2 separate regions of the Homo sapiens genome follow, and region 2 is linked to region 1. The links come from fine-mapping of genetic effects on gene expression. Tissue or cell type: whole blood. Region 1 holds a variant in brackets; the other region holds the start of a gene. All regions are shown on one strand. Distances are from middle to middle.

Evidence for each region. PIP is the estimated chance that this variant, and not a neighbour inherited with it, causes the effect.
Region 2: LIN37 starts here. The variant in region 1 is fine-mapped to the expression of LIN37 in whole blood (TOPMed, PIP 0.97).

The regions. Positions count from the first base shown.
Region 1 is chr19:35,801,333-35,809,547 of GRCh38, reverse strand. It overlaps PRODH2 (proline dehydrogenase 2), which reads left to right. Exons shown (of 10, transcript NM_021232.2): 5 at 2,427-2,507; 6 at 2,718-2,873; 7 at 2,952-3,118; 8 at 6,470-6,580; 9 at 7,272-7,357. Among named protein-coding and RNA genes, the nearest start is that of PRODH2, 7.4 kb to the left of the region's middle. RefSeq lists an enhancer at 2,115-2,615. The variant T/A (reference allele first, on the strand shown) is at 4,061.
Region 2 is chr19:35,745,065-35,753,064 of GRCh38, reverse strand. It overlaps LIN37 (lin-37 DREAM MuvB core complex component), which reads right to left and starts at 4,489. Exons shown (of 9, transcript NM_019104.3): 1 at 4,307-4,489; 2 at 814-889; 3 at 581-631; 4 at 232-261; 5 at 66-151. The coding sequence starts at 4,340. U2AF1L4 (U2 small nuclear RNA auxiliary factor 1 like 4) reads left to right here and starts at 7,647. Exons shown (of 6, transcript NM_001040425.3): 1 at 7,647-7,717; 2 at 7,853-7,940. The coding sequence starts at 7,674. It overlaps PSENEN (presenilin enhancer, gamma-secretase subunit), which reads right to left and starts at 7,414. Exons shown (of 4, transcript NM_172341.4): 1 at 7,365-7,414; 2 at 7,074-7,230; 3 at 6,542-6,646; 4 at 5,546-6,357. The coding sequence starts at 7,134. The coding sequence ends at 6,218. RefSeq lists enhancers at 4,240-4,359, 4,206-4,720, 4,760-4,819, 4,721-5,235.

The sequences.
Region 1 (8,215 bases):
CAACTTCTCAGTGGTTTTAAGGATTAAAACAGGCTGGGTGCAGTGCCTCATGCCTGTAATCTGCATTTTGGGAGGCTGAAATTGGAGGCTCACTTGAGCCCAGGAGTTTGAGACCTGCCTGGGCAACATAGTGAGATCTCATCTCTACAAAAAAATTAAAAAATCAGCCTGTGTGCTGGTGCACACCTGGTGTGGAGGCTAAGGCAGGAGGGTCGCTTGAGCCCAGGAGGTCAATACCAACCTGAGTAATATAGTAAACCCTCATCTCTACAAAAAATTCCTTTAAATTAGCTGGGTGTGGTGGCAGGCACCTGTAATCCTGGCTACTTGGGAGGCTAAGGTGGGAGGATTGCTTGAGCTGGCAAGTTTGAGAGCGAAGAAAGAAAGAGAGGGAGGGAGGAAGGAAGGAAGGAAGGAAAGGAAGGAAGGAAGGAAGGAAGAAAGAAATAAAGAAAGAAAGAAAAAAGGGCCAGGTGCTGTAGCTCACACCTGTAATCCCAGCACTTTGGGAGGCTAAGTGGGGCTGGATCACTTGAGGTCAGGAGTTTGAGACCAGCCTGGGCAACATGGTGAAACCCCATCTCTACTAAAAATATAAAACTTATCCAGAAGTGGTGGCACGTGCCTGTAGCCCCAGTTAATCAGGAGGCTGAGGCAGGGGAATCACTTGAACTTGCACCACTGCACTCTTGCCTGGGAGACAGAGTGAGATCTATCTCAAAAAAAAAAAAAAAAGAAGGAAGGAAGGAAGGGAGGGAAGGAGGGAGGGAGGGAGAAAAGAGAGAAAGACCCAGGCTCTGGAAAGGCTGAGGTTTAAACCTCAGGTCTGCCCTGAGTTAGCTGTGTGACTTTTGACAAGTGACTTCCCTGCTCTGTGCCTCAGTTTCCCCATCTAGAAAATGGGGGGATAATAACAGTTGGTACATTAGAGAGTGGTAAATATTAAATGAGTTAAATATTTGGTGGGTGTCTGAAATAGCTCCCTGAGGGCCTAAGACTACGCCCCAAGTCAAGCAGGAGACAATCCTCTGACAGGGGAGGAGGAAACCAGGCTGCTGCCTCCAGGTCTTCCCTTCTCCAGGAGGCAGCATTCTCCCCACCATGCGGAAGGTTGCAGCTTCCAGCCCAACCTGCCTCCAGGTGGGATTCCATGAGCAAGCCCAGGCCTATGTCATCTGTATCGACCCTGTTGGATATAATAAAGCTTTCAGCCCCACCTGTTCCTCTTTCTTCCATTTCCCAACTTCTTTGAACCCAGCCAGACTCCCTGGAGTCACCAGCAGCTCACATTCAGCCAGATGAATCTGCATAAGACTGTGAGTTAGAAACGGTTCTTATTTCCATGTTACAAGCATATCCACTCCCGAAGTGTTTGCTGAACATCTATCTTGTTCCAGACACGGTGCTAGGGGCCGAGGAAGCATGAAGGCAAAATCCCTGACCTCGAGGCACTTACTTGCAAGTCAGGGGCAAGAGACAATAATTAAAACCAAAGTCAGAATCCCAGCACTTTGGAAGGCTGAGGTGGGAGGATCGCTTGAGTCCAGGAGACTGAGACCAGCCTGGGCAACATAGGAAGACCTTGACTCTACAAATAGTAAAGAATTAGCCCGGCATGGTGGTGGGTGCCTGTGGTACTAGGTACTTGGAAGGCTGAAGCAGGAGGATTGCTTGAGCTGGGGAGGTGGAGGCTGCAGTGAGCCATGATCGTGCCACTGCATTCCAGCCTGGGCAACACAGCAAGACCCCGTCTCAGCAAAACAAAAGTCAGTACGTAACAAGTAAGGGAAAATAAGGCTGAGGAAGAGGAAAAGAAGTTGCCAATGTATAGGTGGGAAAACCATGTTGAGAAAGTGACATTAGAGCAAATACTTGAAGGAAACATGGGAGCAGGTAAAGGGCTGGAGGTGGGAAGGTGCCCTCGTGTTCAAAGAGTAGCAGGGAGGGCTGAGCACGGTGGCTCACACCTGTAATCCCAGCACTTTGGGAGGCCGATGTGGGCAGATCACTTGAGGTCAGGAGTTCGAGACCAGCCTGGCCAACATGGTTAAACCCTGTCTCTACTAAAAGTACAAATATTAGCCGGGCATGGTGGCGGGCGCCTGTAATCCCAGCTACTCGGGAGGCTGAAGCAGGAGAATCACTTGAACCCAGGAGGCAGAGGTTGCAGTGAGCTGAGATCATGCCACTGCACTCCAGCCTGGGCAACAGAGCAAGACTCTGTTTCAAAAAACAAACAAACAAAAACTGAGGCCCAGAAAGGTTACATAACTTGCCCAAGGTCACACAGTAGGTGGTGAAGCCTGGATTCGAGCCCTGATTCTAGGCTCATAACCCCCTCAATAAATAGTACCTAACTGATATTGCTCATTTTTAGATTTCTAGCAACTTATAAGCTTTTCCCCACTTCCCCTGCTGCCCCCTAGAACCTCCAGGTCTCCTGCCTCAATGCTGAGCAGAACCAGCACCTCCGGGCCTCCCTCAGCCGCCTGCATCGGGTGGCACAGGTAACCCCTCCTGCTGGAACCAGCACCTCCGGGCCTCCCTCTGCCGCCTGCATTGGGTGGCACAGGTAACCCCTCCTGCTGGAACCAGCACCTCCGGGCCTCCCTCAGCCGCCTGCATCGGGTGGCACAGGTAACCCCTCCTGCTGGGATCTGGCTCCACTGCCCCTGCTGGACACCCGGGGCCCTGACCGTCGTCTCTGTCGCCATCAGTATGCCCGGGCCCAGCACGTGCGGCTCCTGGTGGATGCGGAGTACACCTCACTGAACCCTGCGCTCTCGCTGCTGGTGGCTGCCCTGGCTGTGCGCTGGAACAGCCCGGGTGAAGGCGGGCCCTGGGTGTGGAACACCTACCAGGCCTGTCTAAAGGTGTGCAGTGTGTTCCAGGAGGTACAGGCTGGGGTCCCCACACCCTGACCTACCAGAACCTGCCTGCGTGCCCTATAGGACACATTCGAGCGGCTGGGGAGGGATGCAGAGGCTGCGCACAGGGCCGGCCTGGCCTTCGGAGTGAAGCTGGTACGAGGTGCATATCTGGACAAGGAGAGAGCGGTGGCCCAGCTCCATGGGATGGAAGACCCCACTCAGCCTGACTATGAGGCCACCAGTCAGAGGTAGGCCCGGGCCAGCTGGCCTCTGCAGGAAATAATAACACCTAGTGGTTGGGTGCAGTGGCTCATACCTGTAATCCCAGTGCTTTGGGAGGCTGAGGCTAGAGATTCACTTGAGAGCAGGAGTTGGAGACCAGCCTGGGCAACACAGGGAGACCCCATCTCTAAAAAATTTTAAAAATAGTCAGGTGTGGTAGCACATGCCTGTGGTTCCAGCCACTTAGGAGGCTGAGGTGGGAGGATCACTTGAGGCCAGGAGTTCAAGGCTGCAGTGAGCCATGACTGCACCACTGCACTTCAGCCTGGGCAGCAGAGCGAGAATCTGTCTCAAAACAAACAAACAAACAAACAAACAAACAAAACAAAACAAAAAGAAATCCTTACAGTGGCCTCTAAGCCCCACATGCTCCCTGTCACTTCCCTAACTTTCCCTCCCTCTCTTCCTCTCCCTCACTCCACTACAGCCACACTGGCCTCCTCCATGTTACCCAGGGGCTTGGCACATCCTGTTTCCACTGCCTGGGACATTCCCACTGCAGACAGTGGCATGGCCCCATCCCTCACCTCCTTAGATCTTTACTTCTTGGTACCTTCTCTGGGGGCCACAGGGACTCAGCCAGGCTACAGAGCAGGTGGCCTAGCCACGCTTGGAATCCAGGCTCATGTCCAAGATCTGCAGGGGCTCCAGGGCACGTTTGTGTACCATCAGCTTAACTGGCACCAAGCCAGGCACAGTGGTGTGCACCTGTCATCCCAACTACTTGGGAGGCTGAGGCAGGAAGATTGCTTGAGCCCAGGGGTTTGAGCCCAATCTGCACAACATAGCAAGACCCCATCTGTAAAAAACATTAAACACAAAAAATTATGGCCGGGCATGGTGGCTCACGCTTGTAATCCCGGCACTTTGGGAGGCTGAGGCAGGCAGATCACCTGAGGTCAGGAGTT[T/A]GAGACCAGCCTGACAAACATGGTGAAACCCTGTCTCTACTAAAAATACAAAAATTAGCCGGGTGTGGTGGCTTGCACTGGTAATCCCAGCTACTTGGGAGGCTGAGGAAGGAGAATCACTTGAACCCAGGAGGCAAAGGTTGTAGTGAGCCAAGATTGAGCCACTACACTCCAGCCTGGGCGACAGAGTGAGACTCCATCTCAAAATAATAATAATAATTTGCACTATTATTTTAAATATTGAAATATAATTCACGTATCATAGAATTCACAATTTTAACATGTACAATTCAGTGGAGTTTAGTATATTCCCAAAATTGTGCAACCATCACCACTCTTTGATTCCACAATATTTTCATCACCCCAAAAAGTAACCTCATACCAATGAGCAGTCAGCTGCCTTCTGTTCCCTCCTCCCCTCAGCCCCTGGAAACCACTAACCTACTTTTTGTCTCTGTGGATTTGCCTATTCTAGACAATCTTATAAATGGAATCATACAATATGTGCCCTTGTATATTTGGCTTTTTTCATTTGTTTTTTAAGTTATTTTTGAGACAGGGTCTCACTCTGTCGCCCAGGCTGGAGTGCAGTGGTGCGATCTTGGCTCACTGCAGCCTTGACTCCCCAGGCCCAAGCCATCCTCCCACCTCAGTCTCCCCAGTAGCTAAGACCACCAGCGCACACCACCATACCCAACACATTTTTTTATTTTTGTAGACACGGGGTCTCCCTATGTTGCCCAGGCTAGTCTTGAACTCCTAGGCTGAAGCAGCCCTCCTGCCTTGGCCTCCCCAAGTGCTGGGATTATAGGCGTAAGCCAGCATGTCCAGCCACAACTGTGCATTTTAAAGGCAGACTAGCCTACCGATAAGGAGCCTGGGCTCTGGAGCATCAGACAGCCTGAGTTCAAATCCCAGCCTGGCCACCTCTAGCTGTGTGACCTGGGGACAAGAGATAGAACCCCTCTCAGCTTCAGTCTCCCCACTCTGTTAAAATGGAATAAGAACATCTGCCTCCCAGAGTTGATGTGGGAATTAGATGAGTGATTAGCTTTCTCCAAAGCAAACAGAATTCTGCACAAAGGGTTTTAACTAAAGGAAATGTGGTGAAGAGGCTGTTTATAGAAGTGTCAGGGGCCAGGTGCAGGGCCTCACACCTGTAATCCCAGCACTTTGGGAGCCCAAGGTGGGAGGATCGCTTGAGCCCAGGAGTTGGAGGATTCCGTGAGCCGAGATCACGCCACTGCACTCCAACCTGGGCAACAGAGTGAGACCCAGTCTCTAAAAAACACAAAACGAAAAGGAAGTGTGGGCAAAGTCAGGGAAGCTATTAGGAAGCTATTTTGACCCCTATGCTGTAGTTGAAGGAGAGGGGCCACCTTAGGGAGCTGTGGCCACACACAGAACACAGTCAGGGTGAGCAGGGAGGGGCCGAGGTGAGACACCCACACTCCTTCCTGCACATGACTCCATGGGGGATGTGGGGCAAAAGTGTCAGCTTCCTGAGGGGCAGAGAAGGGTAGAAAACAGGTCTGGGGGGCGATAGGGAAGACCCACAGAGGATGTGAAATACATAGCGTGGCCCGTGGCCTGCAGCATGCTTGCAAGGTGTTTGCCAATCTATTTCCTCTTCCATATCAGTACCCAGACAGTGTCTTCCTTCCTTTTCACAGTTGCGCGATAGAGCACTATCTTCTCTGTACCACAATTTCCTTAGCCAGTTCCCCATTTATGGACATTTGGGCTGTTGCTAGTGATGTTCTGTTGACAATGCAGCAGTGATAACCTTGGGGAAATGTCATCTTGTGCATGTGATGCGACCCTCTCCTGTGAGACCGCCGCCACTGTCCCAAAGACTTCATATCCCCCTTATCTCACTCCATCCTCACAACAGTGTTGCTCGGAAACTCACAGTGACAAGAGATTAACATGGGGCCGGGTGCGGTGGCTCACGCCTGTAATCCCAGCACTCTGGGAGGCTGAGGCGGGCAGATCACCTGAGGTCAGGAGTTCGAGTCCAGCCTGGGCAACATGGCGAAACTCCGTCTCTACTAAAAATACAAAAATTAGCCGGGTGTGATGGTGCACGCCTGTAATCCCAGCTGCTCGGGAGGCTGAGGCAGGAGAATCCCTTGAACCTGGGAGGTGGAGGTTGCAGTGAGCTGAGATCATGCCACTGCATTCCAGCCTGGGCAACAGAGTGACTCCATCTCAAAAACAAACAAACAAAACCCCCAAAAAACCCCAGAAGATGAAAGTGGCTCAGAGAAGTGATGTCCCTTACAACTGGTGCAGATGGAACAGAGTACTGGTTCCAGAGACCCCTTGCTTAGGAGCACCCCACCCACCCCAGTCGCTGGGGCCTGACCCTCGCTCACCAGGTGAGCTGAACAGAGCATCTCCCTTCAGTTACAGCCGCTGCCTGGAACTGATGCTGACGCACGTGGCCCGCCATGGCCCCATGTGCCACCTCATGGTGGCTTCCCACAATGAGGAATCTGTTCGCCAGGCAACCAAGCGGTATGAGGTGGAGGGATGGGCGGGAAATAGGTGCCCACAAAAGGGCCCTCCCTTCCTCTCCTTTGCTCAAATGCCAGAGATGGACAGAGGTGTTCTGGGGAGAATTTTAAAAATATTTATAGCCAGGCATGGTTGGCACATGCCTATAATCCCAACACTTTGGGAGGCGAAGGTGGAGGATTGTTTGAGACCAGCCTGGGCAACACAGCAAGACCCCATTTCTACAACAAATTAAAAAAAAAAAAACAGCTGGGTGTGGTGGCGCACACCTGTAGTCCCAGCTATTCCGGAGGTGGAAGGATCACTTGAGCCCAAGAGGTTGAGACTGCAGTGAGCAGTGCTTGAGCCACTGCACTCCAGCCTGGGTAACAAAGCAAGTCCCTACCTCTTAAAACAAACAAACAAACAAACACATTAACCCCTGCTATACCTGTAAGTCCTTATAGGTCCCAGATGGACAAGACGTTGCCCCTTATTTGCTGGGGCATGAGGAGGTCTGAGGGCTCCAGGGAACTGGCTGGGAGTCACTGGGGGACCTTCAAGGAATGCAAAGGACTGGTTATTATGTATCATTGAGTTTGGAAATACTTCAATGTTTGAATTACTGGAGCCGCCATATGGGTGCATAGTGGCTGACTTTAAGCTGTAGATGCAGCCACAGTCTGGACTGATGATGTGGCCTTTTCTGTAGCATGTGGGAGCTGGGCATTCCTCTGGATGGGACTGTCTGTTTCGGACAACTTCTGGGCATGTGTGACCACGTCTCTCTAGCACTGGGTATGTGAATGGCTCCCCCACCCCCATCAAGCCCCAGGCCTTACTCCCTCCCAGCCAGAGCCCTTCTCCTATTCCCAACCAAGGCCCAGCCTCCAGATCCTTCCAGAGAGATCTGTCATTCCAGTGTCTGTGGGCCTTCCAAGGCTGTGTCTCTGTGTCTGCCGTCTGTCATTTCTGCTGGTTCTTGATCATGGTGTATTATTTCTTGTGTGTTTTGTTATCTTTACTGTGCTGCTCCTCAGGGCCTGACACCAGGTAATTAATGTTTCCTTCTGCCAGGTGCTAAGCAGAACGAAATCACTTTATCCTAAATTCATAGCTTGAGGTTTCTTGAAACACCCCACTGGCACAAATTTGAGCTGCAAATACATAAGGGGGTTAACCCATAGCCCCAACTTCGCAGAGGTGGATTTTTCTGTTTTCTTCCTTGATCTGTTTATGGCCAAGACCATTTCCTGGGACTGGGGGAAGGTTGCAGGGTTGACTTTTTATTAACTCTTACTCTAAGGGTGTAGATTTTTGGGTTCCAGCTTAACTTGGGGAAGTTCTCCCTTATAACTCTCACCTCAGGCTTGAAGACTGACTCAATGTCCCCCCGCAACTCTGTGAATTCATCAGATAGCACCTCGGTTTTGCTTTTGGGGCAGAAGTGGCTTGCTGTGTGTCTCTTCTCTCTCTGGGTTCTCATTTTCTCTTTTATTTTATTTTATTTATTTATTTATTTTGAGACAGAGTCTTGCTCTGTTACCCAGGCAGGAGTCCAGTGGTGCCATCTTGGCTCACTGCAACCTTTGCCTCCCAGGTTCAAGCGATTCTCCTGCCTCAGCCTCCCAAGTAGCTGGGATTACAGACGGCTGC
Region 2 (8,000 bases), 56 kb after region 1:
TGTGTGAGCATCCTTGCATAGGCCCTTGGCTCCTTACCGACCCTCTAGGGCCACTGTCTACTCACTGGATCGCTGCGGCCCTCCCTCAGCCAGCCCATCATCCATCTCCCTCCTCTTCTTCCTCCGCTGGTGGGGGAAGCGGGCAGATGGCCTGCGTAGGGAGAGGGAGTGTCAGGACTGGGGTAGGAGCTGGGAGCCTCTAGTCAGCTGGCTGGGACCCTGCCACCTTACCTTTTGCCAGTGGCTGCGATGGAGCAGTCCCTGTGGGGAAAGACAGTTGACCCTCAGACAAACGCCTGTGCAAAACCCTGCAGAGGGCACCCTGGGGATACTGGTATCAAACCTGAGATGCTCACATGAACCCCACTTGCCTCTTGGGCCTTTTGTCCCACCCATACCCATGGGGGTCTAGGTGGCAACCACGGGGGGACCTAAGCTTCTCCTGCCACAGGGTCTTTGTACAGGTGGAGTGGTCCGGGCCACGATGGAGGTAGCGCTGGGCTGAGCGGTCAGGGCTTGGATAAGGAAAGAAGTTACCAACCACGAACTCTCAACTCCAAATCCAATCAGAAAAACTCACTTATTGTGGGTGTCTGAGGGTGTTTTCCCAGCTTCCTCATCCAGACGCTCCCTAGAGGCAGAAGAGATCTCTCAGCTCAGGGTTCCAGGGCCCCAGAGAAGGAAGGCACCGAGCAGCCTCCCCATTAAGCACCTTCCTCCCCAAGTCAGCCTGTGGGGTCCCACCCAATCCACCCAGGATCAGAGGGCCCAACCCACCAGGGTGCCCGGCCCTGTGACCCCACGCTGGCCTACCTGTCCATGTGACTCTTCTCCAGCAGACACTGCAAGACAGCATCCAGTTGGTTCCGGGCTTTGGCCATCTCCAGCTCTGGGGCAAGAGAGGACCCAGCAGGAGTCAGCTCCCAGGCCCCAGCTAGGTGGGCAGCTGACTGGGCCAGGGAAGGGCGTGCGTGTCCTCTGCCCTGGCCAATCTCAGAGCCAGGCCCAGGCAGCCTGAAAGGGTGCAACAGGCAGAGATGGCTGGAGTGATGCCCAGAGCTCTGAGTTCCAGAGCTGTCCCACGTGATTGCTCTGTGACAGGAGGTAAGGCCAATCACCTTACCTTATGAGCCTTTTGGGTTTTAAAAAAATGTGTTTTAATATAATATAAATTTATTACAAAAAAATTGTATAGAGATGGAGTCTTAATGATATTGACCAAGCTGGTCTTGAACTCCTAGATTCAGGTGAGCCATCTCGGCTTCCCAAAGTGCTGGGATTACAGGTGTGAGCCACTGTGCCTGTCCCAGTGGCAAGGTTTAAATATGCTATATATTACAAATAATAACCCACTGAATTATCACAATAACCCTTAGAGGTAGATGTGATTTTTTTTTTTCTTGAAAAAGGATATCACGATGTTGTCCGGTTTTGAACTCCTGGGCTCAAGCGGTCCTGCTGTCTCAGCCTCCCAAGTAGCTGGGGCTATAGGCACATGCCATAGAGCCCAGCTCAGATAGATATGATTTTTATTCCTATTTTAAAGATGATGAAACTGAGGCACAGAGATGTTAGGCCACGTGCTCAAAGGCACACAGCAAAGAAATTGCAGAGCTGATGATTTGAACCCAGGCTGTCTGGTTCCAAAGCTGAAGTTATGAGACAGAGGCTCAACCTGAGTGCAGAATCTGGTTGAGGCAGTGGTATAATTTTATTTTAATTAATTAATGTATTTCTGTTTTGTGAGACGGAGTCTTGCTCTGTCACCCAGGCTGGAATGCAGTGGCATAATCTTGGCTCACTGCAACCTCCACCTCCCAGGTTCAAGTGATTCTCCTGCCTCAGCCTCCCAAATAGCTGGGATTACAGGCGCCCGCCACCACGCCTGGCTAATTTTTGTATTTTTAGTAGAGATGGGGTCTTACCACGTTGACCAGGCTGGTCTCAAACTCCTGACCTCAGTGATCTGCTGGCCTCAGGCTCCCAAAGTGCTTACAGGCGTGAGCCACCATGCCCGGCCAACAGTGGTATAATTTTAAATCTGAATTCAATCTGAATGAGCTGACATTTAAAAATTGGGAGATTTCTTTCTTTTCTTTTTTTTGAGACGGAGTCTTGCTCTGTCTCCCAGGCTGGAGTGCAGTGGCGTGATCTCGGCTCACTGCAACCTCTGCCTCCTGAGTACAAGTGATTCTCCTGCCTCAGCCTCCCAAAGAACTGGGACTACAGGCGCGTGCCACCATGGTCAACTAATTTTTTCTATTTTTAGTACAGACAGGGTTTCACCATATTGACCAGGCTGATCTCAAACTCCTGACCTCATGATCCACCTGCCTCAGCCTCCCAAAGTGCTGGATTACAGGCAGAAGCCACCGCACCCAGCCAAAATTGGGAGATTTCACCTAAAACATCCTGTTTGGGCTTTTTTTTCCCCCTCGGGAAATGAGATCTAGGCCCACCTTCCTGCCCAGTTAGCCTGTGGCTGCCTCCCGTCATCACAGAACTTGAGGAAGTGATGATGTTACGCTGTCCTCCTACCTTTGAGAGGTGTTTGCTCTGCCTTTCTGACTGGTGGGAGCTCTGGCTCTAGTGCTCAGAGCCTGGAGGGGACACCTGGGAACTTGCCTGACCAGTCCAGGGACTTCCTGAGAAGCCCAGGAGACACAGGGATTCAAACATAGCTCAGAGGAGAGACAGAGTGAGGGTGGGGAAGGGAGTAGCTGAGATTGCAGCAAAGCCTTGGGCAGATGCAGAGGGTACGGATCACGTCCACAACTCTCCTCAGGCCCAGCCTCTCTCCTGAACCCCCGACTTGGGCCTGAAGCCTCCCTCTCAAGGGTCGCCTCACTGTCCCCAAGTCCCTCCCTGTACCTCACCATGGATACCCCTCTCCCTCCCCTACCCAGCCCACCAACCCCATGGCCTGTCCACTAGGCCTCCCGAGTGTCTCTCCCACCCACCTCCTCCCTACTCTACCCATCCTGGTCCTGTCCTTTGCTCCCCCTTGGCTCCCTGCCTCAGTGTCCCCCTTCTGATACACCCTCCACAAGGCAGCCAGGGGAATCTTCCTGAAAAATAACAAACCTGACCCTGATCTTCCCTTGCTTGGAAACTTCCATGACTCCACAGCACCCAGGGGTGGAGTCTGCACTCCTCAGCCTGGCACTCACAGGTGTACACCTTCCCTCACCATCATTTGTGGTCACACCCACTTCTCTTTTCTTTCTTTCTTTTCTTTTCCTTTCTTTTTTTTTTTTTTTGAGACAGGGTCTCAATCTATCACCCAGGCTGGAGTGCAGTGGTGTGATCTCAGCTCACTGCAACCTCCGCCTCCCCGGCTCCAGCGATCCTCCTGCCTCAGCCTCCTGAGTAGCTGGGACTACAGGCTTGTGCCACCACACCTGGCTAATTTTTTTTTTTTTTTTGTATTTTTTATAGAGACAGCGTTTCGCTATGTTGCCCAGGCTGGTCTCAAACTCCTGACCTCAAGTGATCTGCCAGCCTCGGCCTCCCAAAGTGTTGGGATTACAGGTGTGAGCCACCGCACCCAGCCTCCCACTTTGTTTTAATAACACTTTTGCCATGGGACATCCTACATCATTTTACTATTATCTTTCTGTCTAAATTCTGCACCCCTCCCACTGCCCTTACCATGCCAGGCCTGGGATCCGGTCAGCTCCGCCCCAACCCAAAATTCTCTCCTCTTTCTAAGCTTCACCCATTGACCACAGTTCCTATTTTCTAGGATTACTGGAATATAGTGACTGTGAGGATTAAGAGTGCCTGTACTTCAGGCTCACAGCAAGATGTGTGACTCTGATCACTGCTGGAAATGGGGAAACTGAGGGGAAGCCAAGAAAAGAGAACTTCTCGGCTGGGCGCGGGGACTCACGCCTGTAATCTCAGCACTTTGGGAGGCTAAGGCGGGAGGATCGCTTGAGACCAGGAGTTCGAGACCAGCCTGGGCAATATAGCGATACTCCGTCTCTATTTAAATATTTTAAAAATTTAAATTAAAAAAAAGAGGAAAGAAAAGGGCCCTTCTCAGAGTTACCGGCTCAGGATTCCCCATGTCCTACCACGCACGTCATTGCCCGAGCCACCCCATTCAATCTCAAAGCGACTTCAAGCGCACACCGGGAGGGTGTGAAGGTGGCAGGCAACGCTCGCTGCCTGATACAGCGATTGTCAGGTGGGCTTCAGGGAAAAGTCGTGCAGTCCCCTTTCCGCGATACTCCCTTCCACCGGGACTCCACACCCTGTCAACCCGATGGTCCCGACAGGCCCCCGACGTCAGGGTCCTCACCTGATTTCTCCACTTTCACCTTCACAGGGAACATGGTTTGGGTCCGGGATCTGGCTAGCTGGGTCAGAGGCGCCCCAAAGGGCCTAGGGTCACAAGTCAAGGCGGGAGAAGGCGGGGACAGTTCAAAGATGAGCTTCGTGGGCCACGGGTCCTCCGCCTTTGGTTGTGTCCAGCCTGGACCGTGGCCACCACCCTTCTGTGGGCGGGCCCCTTCGGCAGTAGCTTGTTCCTATTAGTTATTGCAGCCGTCAATCTCGCATCCTGACCAATTGAGAGCTGCCTCCGTAGTCTCCCAGCTTTAGGTCCCACCCACCTGGGGCTTTGCTTCCGGAAACAAACCATCTACCCCCTAGCTTCCTGGGAGGTGTAGTTCCAGCTTCCCAGACTCACCCTGAGTAACAGCGCCTGCGCCGCGCGGGGCACGGTGGGAAACAAAGGATTAGGGCATCGCGAGGCTTCCCGGGACTTGTAGTGTGAGAAGGGTTGAGCAACACCAAGTTAGCTCTTTACCGGATTTAACCAACCGTTGGGGTCCCTTCATCCCTAAGAGGAAGACTAATGTAAAATAACGTTGGGTTCCCTCTCACTGAGCACTCGCTAGGTGCCAGGTATCTGTTAATCTCTTTGCAGGTACAACTTCATTCATTTTGCAAATATTTATTAGTGTGTCGGGCACTCTTCTAGGCATTGGAGACACCTTGAGGAACAGAATAGACAAAAATCCCTGCGCTAATGGAGCTTATCTTTTAAAGGAGGGAAGATAAACAGTAAACAAGTAAATTTTAAGTGAAATGTAATAGGAGAAAGAATATGATCTGGGCGGGGCATGGTGGCTCACGCCTGTAAATCCCAGCTCTTTGGGAGGCCTAGGCAGGCAGATCACCTGTGACCAGGAGTTCGAGACCAGCCTGGCCAACATGGTGAAACCCAGTCTTTACTAAAAATACAAAAATTAGCCGGGCATGGTGGCATGCGCCTGTAATCCCAGCTATTCGAGAGTTTGAGGCAGGAGAATCGCTTGAACCCGGGAGGCGGAGGTTGCAGTGAGCCGAGATCGGACCTCTGCACTCCAGCCTGGGTGACAGAGCAAGACTCCATCTAGAAAAACAAACAGACAACAACAACAAACCCCTCTCCCCCCCCAAAAAAAAAACCCACAAAAAAAGTGTAGCCTGAAAGGGACATAGGAATATCAAGGTGGTGATTGAATTTTAAATAAGATGGATGGTCAAGGAAGGATTCTCTGAGAAAGCTCTTGACTATTTTTATTTTTGCAGACAACACTTCCTTCAGAAAACGGGAAACTTCCATTTGTCACACGTCTTGGTCCAGATAAATCCCAGGAAGTAGCATCGTGATCTACACTTCTGATGAGAATACTGCAGCCCACAGTAGGAAAGTTATATTTTTGAATTCACGACTACCAGTACAGGATAACAGCCCCTAGAAATGGAAGCACTAGGCCGATCCTACCACTGCACTCCAGCCTGGCTGACAGAGCAAGACTCTGTCTCAAAAAAAAAAAAAAAAAAGAAAAAAGAAAAAGAAATGGAAGCACTATTCCTTTCTTAGTTTCTCATCTAATAGTTTCCTGAGCAGGAAAGTTCCTAGTTCAGAAGATTATGAGTAGTATGCACTGTAAAAAATGTACATCATGTCTAAATACTAAGCCTCGTACAAAGCTCTCAACAGATGTTTTTAAATATTAATAATCATTTATGCCTCAACCTCTAAAAGATCCCAGGAAGTCAGTATCGAAAGTTAGGGTCCTTTATTGGGGGATGTCAGCAGAGAACGTGGGACATGAAAACAAGTCTTAGGAGTTTGAGAAGGGGCTCCCAGGACAGGCTCCTCTGCTTTAAGGAGCCTGTCCTGGGAGAATAAGCAGGGCCCCAGTATGTGCAGAAGTTGTCAGGGGGTGCCCAGGGGTATGGTGAAGGAGAGGTAGTCCCCAAGGGCACCCCAGCGGGGCCGGTAGATCTGGAAGATGGTGATCCAGGAGGTGAGCACTATCACCCAGAAGAGGAAGCCCACAGCTGAGCGCCAGACATCTGTCATGGGAAACAGAAGCTGGAAGGGTTGGCCTCCGGCTGCTCTCCAGACTTCCCTAGACCAGCCTTCCCTTCTCACCCAGAGCCCCAACATTTTGGATCCTCCATTGTCCCTTCCCACCAAGATTCCCCGCTTCCCCCTCTCCCCTGCCACTGGCCTCCCTCCTCTGTGCTCTAGACTCACAGCCTTTGATTTGGCTCTGTTCTGTGTAGGCTGGGACAAGGAAGGCCTCTCGGAAGAACCAGAAGATGTTGACCAACCAGAGAAAAGGCAGGAAAGCAAACCCCCCTAGGGAGAAAGAAAAACAAACAAACAAACCCCAAAACCTCATAAGGCAATGAAGATCTTCTCCAACTCCCACCGAGATCTATTTGGAAGAAACTCTCCCACACCCAAGTTCAAATGGAGATTTCTGTTGTCAGGGACTCAGGAATCTGGCTCCTCTTTGGGATCCAGGAATCTGATTCCTCAACCATCTCTTTCACAGGACCCAAGAGTCCAGGCCCTCAATCCCCCTCCTCTCTTGGGATCCAGAAATTGAGGCCCCAGCTTCCTCATTCCTCAGGACCCAGGCCCTCCCCACTCAAATCCAGGAGTCGGCGTTCGCAGGTCCTTCATCTCTTAGACTTAAGAATCCAGGCCCCGAGGCCCTCTTCCCTCGGGTGCTCTAGTCCAGTCCCCTCTCTTCTCCTGGGACCCTAGCGATCTGCCTTACCCAGGTAGTACTTCCGGCACAGGTTCAATTTCTCCTCATTGGACACTCGCTCCAGGTTCATAGCTGCGCTGGGGCCGGGTCGTCCCAAGGGTCTGCGGGGCAAGACCCAAGCCTTGACCCTAAGTAACAGATGCAAGGATCACGAACAACCACGCCCCTATTAGAACAAATCAGAGATAAATGTAAAGGTCGGTTTGCTGAAAGCAGGGCATCCCCACCCCCACTAGTAAGCTGGCTGGATTAAAGAGCTCTTTATATTTACTAGGGTGGGCGAAACGACCCCCAACTCACCAGGAGAGCTCACTTCCTCCGGCTGGGGTGCCTTAGCTACTTTCAGTTATGGACGTTTGCGCGAGACGCCCCAGGTTTCCCTGGAGATTGTAGTCTTCTTTGGGCGAGGCAACACTGCACGCATGCGCTGTTAAAAGAACTCCTACCGGGGAGTCTATGGGGAGGGCGCGCGCCTCCCACGCGCAAGCGCCCTGGGGCGTTTCCGAGCGCTTGGTAAGCGCCTGGAGAGGGCAACGAACTACACTTCCCAGTGCTCCTAAGCAACGGAAGTGACGTAAGAGCAGCCAGACCTGGAGGGCTTGGGTAAAAATGGCTGAATATTTAGCTTCGATATTCGGGACTGAGAAGGACAAGTGAGAACGGGCGCTGGGAGTGGACTCTCGGGGGGTCGGGGCCGGGGTACTGGGGTCCTGGGTGGTGGGGCGGTGTTTCTGGGGTGCCCAGCTTCCCCGGCCCTCGGTTCACCTTTGTCTTTGCACCTTTTCCAGGGTTAACTGCTCTTTTTACTTTAAGATCGGGGTCTGCCGGCACGGGGACCGGTGCTCCCGGCTTCACAACAAGCCGACATTCAGCCAGGTGAGACCCGGCACGGAGCCTCGGGGGTTAACGGCTCCCTGGCCCTTCCCCTTCTGGGGC